Linked DNA regions of Homo sapiens. The protein of the gene in region 1 purifies or fractionates together with the protein of each later gene. This does not show direct contact. Each region holds a gene or a part of one and is shown in the gene's direction. Other genes may lie near its edges.

Region 1 (3,632 bases):
CATCCACCAAAGTGGCTGTGGTGGAAAAAGCATTCATTTTAGGTGTATCAGATTGGGCTGAGATCCCAGTTGTTACTTAGCAGCCAACATCCTTAAGTTACTCTTGTGGCAAGTTTGCTTCCCCATCTCTGCTTAGCTTTCCAGCTTCATCTTCCACCCCGGCAGACCACACCCCAGCCTGCTAAACTCCCTGTCCTTCTCTGAATCTCTGAGCTCTCGGCTCTATTGCTTTGGGATTCATGCTGCTATACGTGCCAGGAAGTCCATTTCTCATACCTTCATCCCCCAATCCAGCTATTTCTTGCCCATCCTTGAACAGTGACATCAGCTATTCTGAGGATGTGCTACTCACGCAGGCTGGACTAGGTACCCTTTCTATCCTTTGGCAGGCTGTACTAACCTCTGTTAGATTTAAAATATTGTTTTTGTAATTGCTTTTACCTGTCCCCACCAAAAGACAGTTGCCCATATAATCATCAAAAACTATTTGTTAAATCAATCCAGAGAAGTAATTAGCACTTACTTCTCAGGGTTGTTCGGTCAATCTATAAACTGTAGGCTGTTATTTGGTCTACTGTTGATCCCAGCTTCTCTATCTTTGAACAGTGCCCATTAACTCAAGAATATACTGCTTCCTTGTTCTCTCCTTCTTGCCCCTCTCCATCATCCCCTAAAAGCCCCCTTCTCTGAGAGGGTAACCTTGAGCTTCTGGGTTTTGTAGATGTCTATACCTGAGATCCGACAATGTGGTAGAAGGCAACTGTGCTGATGAATTACTACAAAACTCCCATCGCGTCGTGGAGGAGTACTTTGTGGCCCCCCCAGGTACGTGCTGCCCAGAATGGTTTAACAGATAGTCTCACAGTAACCTTAGGAATGAAGCAGGAAGCATGAGGACCAAAGATGCTATGTGAAGGCACTTTGAAAAGGATGAAGTGCATACAGATGGTGGCATTAAGGTGGCAGTAGGGTCCAGGGTCATACTCACCTCTAGGGGGCAGTTAGTAACAGGAACAAGCAAAACAGGATTGGGGGCATGCGGGAGGTTTAAAGTAGGTGGAAATCTGGAGCTCAAGATCTCCCTAAAGGGGCAGCTGGCATTCAGTGTTTCTCAAAGCCACAGTTAAGACCCTGCCAGATCCTGTAATCGACTCCAACTTTCTAGTATTCATACCATGAATAAATATTTGTTAGGTCTAGCTTTGGGCTGGGTACCACAAAAAAACCAGTCCTTTCCTAAAAGAATCCTTTTTTTTTTTTTTTTTTTTTGAGACGGAGTTTCGCTCTTGTTGCCCAGGCTGGAGTGCAATGGTGCAATCTCGGCTCACCGCAACCTCCACCTCCCGGGTTCAAGCGATTCTCCTGCTCAGGCTCCCCAGTAGCTGGGATTACAGGCATGCACCAGCACGCCTGGCTAATTTTTTGTATTTTTAGTAGAGACAGGGTTTCACTGTGTTAGCCAGGATGGTCTCGATCTCCCGACCTCAGGTGATCCACCCACCTCGGCCTCCCAAAACGAATCTTATTGTGACAACTTAGTTATCATGTGTGGCCTTAGCCCAGATGTTTCTGTCACATCTTTGCCTATGACATGATTCAAACGCCATTAGGGTCTGCCCTCAGTCTGTGCCCATTCAAAGCAGGAGGAGCATGGCTGCTACCCTATCAGTGTTGCCAGGCAGGAATGTAAACCCATTTCTCCAGAGAACCTGGATACCTGACATTTTGTGTGATATTTCTTAAATTTTTTTTTTTTTTTTTGAGATGGAGTCTCGCTCGGTCACCCAGGCTGGAGTGCAATCTTGACTCACTGCAACCTCTGCCTCCCGGGTTCAAGCAATTCTCTGCCTCAGCCTGCCGAGTAGCTGGGATTACAGGTGCCTGCCACCATGCCTGGCTAATATTTTTGTATTTTTAGTAGAGGCAGGATTTCACCATCTTGGCCAGGCTAGTCTTGAACTGGTGATCTACCCGCCTCAGCCTCCCAAAGTGCTGGGATTACAGGGGTGAGCCACTGCACCCCGCCGATATTTCTTAAATTTTAAGTGCTAGCAACCAATTCAAAATTTAAAAAACAAAATACCATCCAAGCCAAATAAAACACATCTGCAAGCCAGGTGCAGTCTGTGAGCCATCAGTTTACAACAGCTGGTATAGAGATTTGCATCATCTACCTACTGTAAATATTTTAAATAGAAGCTTTAAAATTACTCTGGGCTGACAGTAAAATCCAGAACCTTGGATAGGTTGACTGTTTTTATCTCCTCTGCAGGTAGGTGAATACTTGGAGCTGTTGTACTACCCCTCTGGGCATCTGGGAGTGGGACTAGCCAAAAGCAATCAGGTAGCCTGCTAAGTGCCAACTTCCAGTTCAGGATATCCTGAGGGAGAATCATTCTGAGCAGACTCCACAGAAGACATTGGCCCTGGTCAGCTTAAGGTGCCAGTTAAAGGCAGGCTCTGGTTGATGCAAGGATGGGAAAGAAAGCTAGAAATTTTGTGAGCTAAACTTTTTGTTTGTTTTGAGACGGAGTCTTGCTCTGTTGCCCAAGCTGGAGTGCAGTGGCGCGATCTCGGCTCACTGCAAGCTCCACCTTCCACGTTCATGCCATTCTCCTGCCTTAGCCTCCCAAGTAGCTAGGACTACAGGCGCCCACCACAACGCCTGGCTAATTTTTTGTATTTTTAGTAGAGACGGGGTTTCACCGTGTTAGCCAGGATGGTCTCTCTCTCCTGACCTCGTGATCGTCCGCTTCGGCCTCCCAGAGTGCTGGGATTACAGGTGTGAGCCACCGCACCCGGCCGTGAGCTAAACTCTTAATCATGCCTCCAATCCACTAAACCACCTGTTAACTGTGGAGAGAAAGGAGACTCTCCATCTCAGAGCCTGATAGTTGTGGCTCCAGCAGAAATATCTTTTGATCAGACATGCTATCTCCCACACAGAACCTTACTTCAGACTTTGCTTTTTGGGACCACCTGAGTTCATGGTCAGTGTTTCCTTCTAGTCCTATCTGCATATTAGTGGCTAATCAACCTGTATACTCCTTACTGAAAAAGGTGAATTTGGCTACACTTAGAACTGATTCTTTCAGATACTCCCAGTTAGGAAAACAGGACAGTAGCTACATTACTTCCATATTTTCCATGAGAAAGTAGTGATCAGTTAGCTCAGTAGAGCCAGCTGGGCGGCAGGCTCAGCTATAACATTCTCTGTTGTGGCCGGGCGCGGTGGCTCATGCCTGTAATCCTAGCACTTTGGGAGGCCGAGGAGGGCGGATCACGAGGTCAGGAGATCGAGACCATCCTGGCTAACACGGTGAAACCCCGTCTCTATTAAAAATACAAAAAATTAGCCGGGAGAGGTGGCGGGCGCCTGTAGTCCCAGCTACTCTGGAGGCCGAGGCAGGAGAATGGCGTGAACCCCAGGGGGCGGAGCCTGCAGTGAGCTGAGATTGCGCCACTGCACTCCAGCCTGGGCAACAGCGAGACTCTGTCTCAAAACAAAAACAAACAAACAAACAAAAATTCTCTTTTGTTATTTTCAAACAGGTAATATCTCTTTGCCAAAGCTGGATGAACAAGAGCCATTCCCACACAGCTGAGTAGCTCATTCTGGAAAGGGGGTACTC
Region 2 (3,632 bases), on another chromosome or scaffold:
TAATTTAGGAATAATATTCCTAGAAATACATGTTGTTATGACGATAAGTAGTATTTTTTCACCAGCACTAAAAGTTATAGTTAAAATATTTTGCTGTATCCCAGCTACTTGGGAGGCTGAGGCAGGAGAATCGCTTGAACCTGGGAGGCGGAGGTTGCAATGAGCCAAGATTGTGCCATTGCACTCCAGCCTGGGCATCAAGAGCAAGACTCCGTCTCAAAAAAAAAAAAAAATTTGCTGTAAGCGAAGACTGAAATAGCTTCTATAGGAGAGCTTTAGAATGAAGTCATTTAGAGGAGCAGGCGAATCCTAACCGCATCTCTCTCTTTAGCTGGACTGAACCCAAACATGAATGTCAACAGCATGGACATGACCGGTGGCTTGTCGGTGAAGGACCCATCCCAGTCCCAGTCACGCCTCCCCCAGTGGACGCACCCCAACTCCATGGATAACTTGCCCAGTGCCGCTTCCCCCCTGGAGCAGAACCCTAGCAAGCATGGTACGTCTGAGCTAGGATGCCTGTGGTGGGATCACTGCTGGCTTATTAATCGATCGTCCTGTTGTATAGCATGGCCATTCTATACTTTTCTAAGAATTGAGCACTGAAAGTTGGATTTAAAATAACCCATTCCATTATAGTGCATATAAGATCTCAGCTAGTCACTGATCAAACTTCTTAAAACCCAACCATTAGATCTTAGCTACAAACTTAGAAATAATTTGAAAACCCCAGAGCAGCAAAGAATCTAGGTCATAGCCTGTGTACTTTTTTTATGTATCTATATTCATCAACAAAAACTTGAGTCTGCTGAAATGTTTTCAATAAAATGGTAAAACATAAATAGAAAATCAAATATACAGTATGTATGGGAACTGCAGCTGTAAATACTAGGGTGCATTTCTGTTGGTTATTCCCCTCCATCCAAGCAGTCTGTCTTACTCCAAACTGGTGTCCCCATCGGGAACTCTTTACTGATGGACACACGAGTAAGGTGGAAGCAAAAATGATAACCATAGGAGGTAATCTCACTCTCAAGCATTAAATTTAACTCTGAACTTCCTGGTAGAATAAACAGCAAAGGAAATTCAGTAGGTTACGTAGTTCTCTCTTGATAGGAAGCATTCTAAAAAGAAAAAGGAAACTATGTCTCATGGTTAACTTACGGAAAATCATCACACACTGCTGGCACCTTTCTTAGCAGGAGGGCTCTGCTGCCTGTAGCTGGTTGGTTTGGTTCTGTATGAATTTTTAACATCCACTGTGTTCTTCCGTAGTGAGGGTTTCAGACTAAAAGGAGGGAAGAGATAACAGCAAATTTGATAGCTAATCACAAAGACTCATAAGTTGTCCCCAAAAAGATTTATTAAGGGCAGCTTCCCATGGTATGGATATGTATTTTGTAAAGACTTCTTACTGGACAAACTGAAATTGTTCTTCAAGGGTTTCAATCTTTCAGGGCTGAAATTGTAGCTAACTGAAACAGTCACTGGCCAGGCATGGTGGCTCACACCTGTAGTTCCAGCTACTTGGGAGGCCAAGGTGGGAGGATCGCTTGAGCCCAGGAGGTTGAGCCCTGATCACATCACTACACTCCAGCCTGGGCCACAGAGTGAGAAGTTGTCTCAAAAAAATAAATAAATAAATAAATAAAGTCATTGATTCTTACAGAATCCTAGACAGACCAAGTCTTACAATTCATGTAACTGAATAGGGCAAGGCATTGGACCTAGAACAGAAGGTACATAGGGAGGCTTAGGGTATCTTCTGGTGTCTCTCAACTGGAGAGTATTCACTCGCTTCTTTGTTTCCTATTGTCCCCATAGGTGCTATCCCTGGAGGTCTAAGCATTGGGCCTCCAGGTAAGTCCTCCATTGATGACTCCTATGGCCGGTACGATTTAATCCAGAACAGTGAGTCACCAGCCAGTCCTCCCGTAGCTGTTCCCCATAGCTGGTCACGTGCCAAATCTGACAGTGATAAAATCTCAAATGGCTCTAGCATCAACTGGCCCCCAGGTAAGACCATGCAACACTTCTGTGCAACAGCAGCAGGTCAGAATGTGCTCCAAGCCTGCAGAGAGTGATTAGGCTGAGAGGACCCAGAATCTGAGCTAAGGATCTGGAAGCGTTAAGCCCAGAGCTTTGGCATTTTCCTTGGAAATCCATTTGTCAGATCAATTTTGGGTATGGTTAGCATCAGGCATTTTTCTGTAAACCCTTAGTTCAGCATGAGGAGTGGAAGGGGTGGCAGGGAGGAAGCACACTGCACACTATCCGGTAAAACTATTCCAACCCTGTGTGAAAACTAGCTTAATATGATAGCTGTGATACCTGGTTCTAGTTTGTTCCAAAGGATTGATTGCTTTAATGAAAGAGAGTATAAGGTGTACCTCTAATTTAATTAGCAGATTATAAAAATTTCTACAAACAGGACAAAACATCTTTTAAAATTTCGTGAATCAATGTGCCGGTGTTCTGATCTGTGGCTTCTCATTTTGGTTTCTTAAACAGAATTCCATCCGGGAGTTCCATGGAAAGGACTGCAGAATATTGACCCTGAGAATGACCCTGACGTCACTCCTGGCAGTGTCCCCACTGGGCCTACCATCAACACCACCATCCAGGATGTCAACCGCTACCTCCTCAAGAGTGGAGGTGAGGGTGCTGCTCTTCCTGCCTCTGCATGGACGGTCTCTCTAGACCCATTTGGAGATGTCAGGGGTGACAGGTTGGGCTGTGAGGCAGGGATGATACAAGGCACAGTTGGCGGGCACCTTTTCTAGTCACCTGAAGCAGCATGAAAAGACAGCAGGTAGTGCTTATGGAGAAATGGAAATCAATTTGAGTTTCTGCTGGATTTTTTATTATTATTACTTTTTTTTTTTTTTTGCGATGAAGTCTCACTCTGTCGCCCAGGATGGAGTGCAGTGGCATGATCTCAGCTCTCTGCAATCTCCACCTTCTGGGTTCAAGCGACTCTCCTGCCTCAGCCTCCCAAGTAGCTGGAATTACAGGCATGTGTGCCACCATACCAAGCTAATTTTTGTATTTTTAGTAGAGACAGGGTTTTGCCATGTTGGCCAGGCTGGTCTCGAACTCCTGACCTCAGGTGTCGCCCATGCTGCTGGATTTATTGATAAGTAATGTCTTATCATAGAAGTGCCATCTCTGATAAAGTTTTATCACAGCATGCTATTTTGTGGAAGGAAGAGCTAGATTGCCATAGGTACTATCACTAATAAGGCCACCTAGATAGTTCCCAAAACATTGAATTTCCCACTTGAAATATGACTCATTGGAGCCATGTGTTTTGTGTTTGCTTCTTTTGTTTCTTTTTTTTTTTTTTTTGAGACAGATTCTCGCTCTCTTGCCCAGGCTGGAGTATAGTGGCGTGATCTTGGCTCACTGCAACCTCCGCCTCGCAGGCTCAAGTGATTCTCATGCCTCAGCCTCCCGATTAGCTGGGACTACAGGCGTGCACCACCACACCCAGCTAATTTTTTCTATTTTTAGTAGAGATGGGGTTTCACCATGTTTGCCAGGCTGATCTCGAACTCCTGACCTCAAGTGATCCGCCTGCTTTGGCCTCCCAAAGTGCTGGGATTACAGGCGTGAGCCAGTGTGCCTGGCTG

Evidence for each region.
Region 2: the proteins of GATC (region 1) and TNRC6C purify together in Homo sapiens (co-immunoprecipitation; one large-scale study listed by IntAct). This does not show direct contact.

What each region holds. Positions count from the first base shown.
Region 1 is NC_000012.12:120,456,355-120,459,986, forward strand, and holds part of GATC (glutamyl-tRNA(Gln) amidotransferase subunit C, mitochondrial), read left to right. Parts: intron 1-721; coding exon 722-825; intron 826-3,552; coding exon 3,553-3,605; 3' UTR 3,606-3,632. UniProt on the Homo sapiens protein: Allows the formation of correctly charged Gln-tRNA(Gln) through the transamidation of misacylated Glu-tRNA(Gln) in the mitochondria. The reaction takes place in the presence of glutamine and ATP through an activated gamma-phospho-Glu-tRNA(Gln).
Region 2 is NC_000017.11:78,091,109-78,094,740, forward strand, and holds part of TNRC6C (trinucleotide repeat-containing gene 6C protein), read left to right. Parts: intron 1-331; coding exon 332-499; intron 500-1,824; coding exon 1,825-2,016; intron 2,017-2,511; coding exon 2,512-2,655; intron 2,656-3,632. UniProt on the Homo sapiens protein: Plays a role in RNA-mediated gene silencing by micro-RNAs (miRNAs). Required for miRNA-dependent translational repression of complementary mRNAs by argonaute family proteins.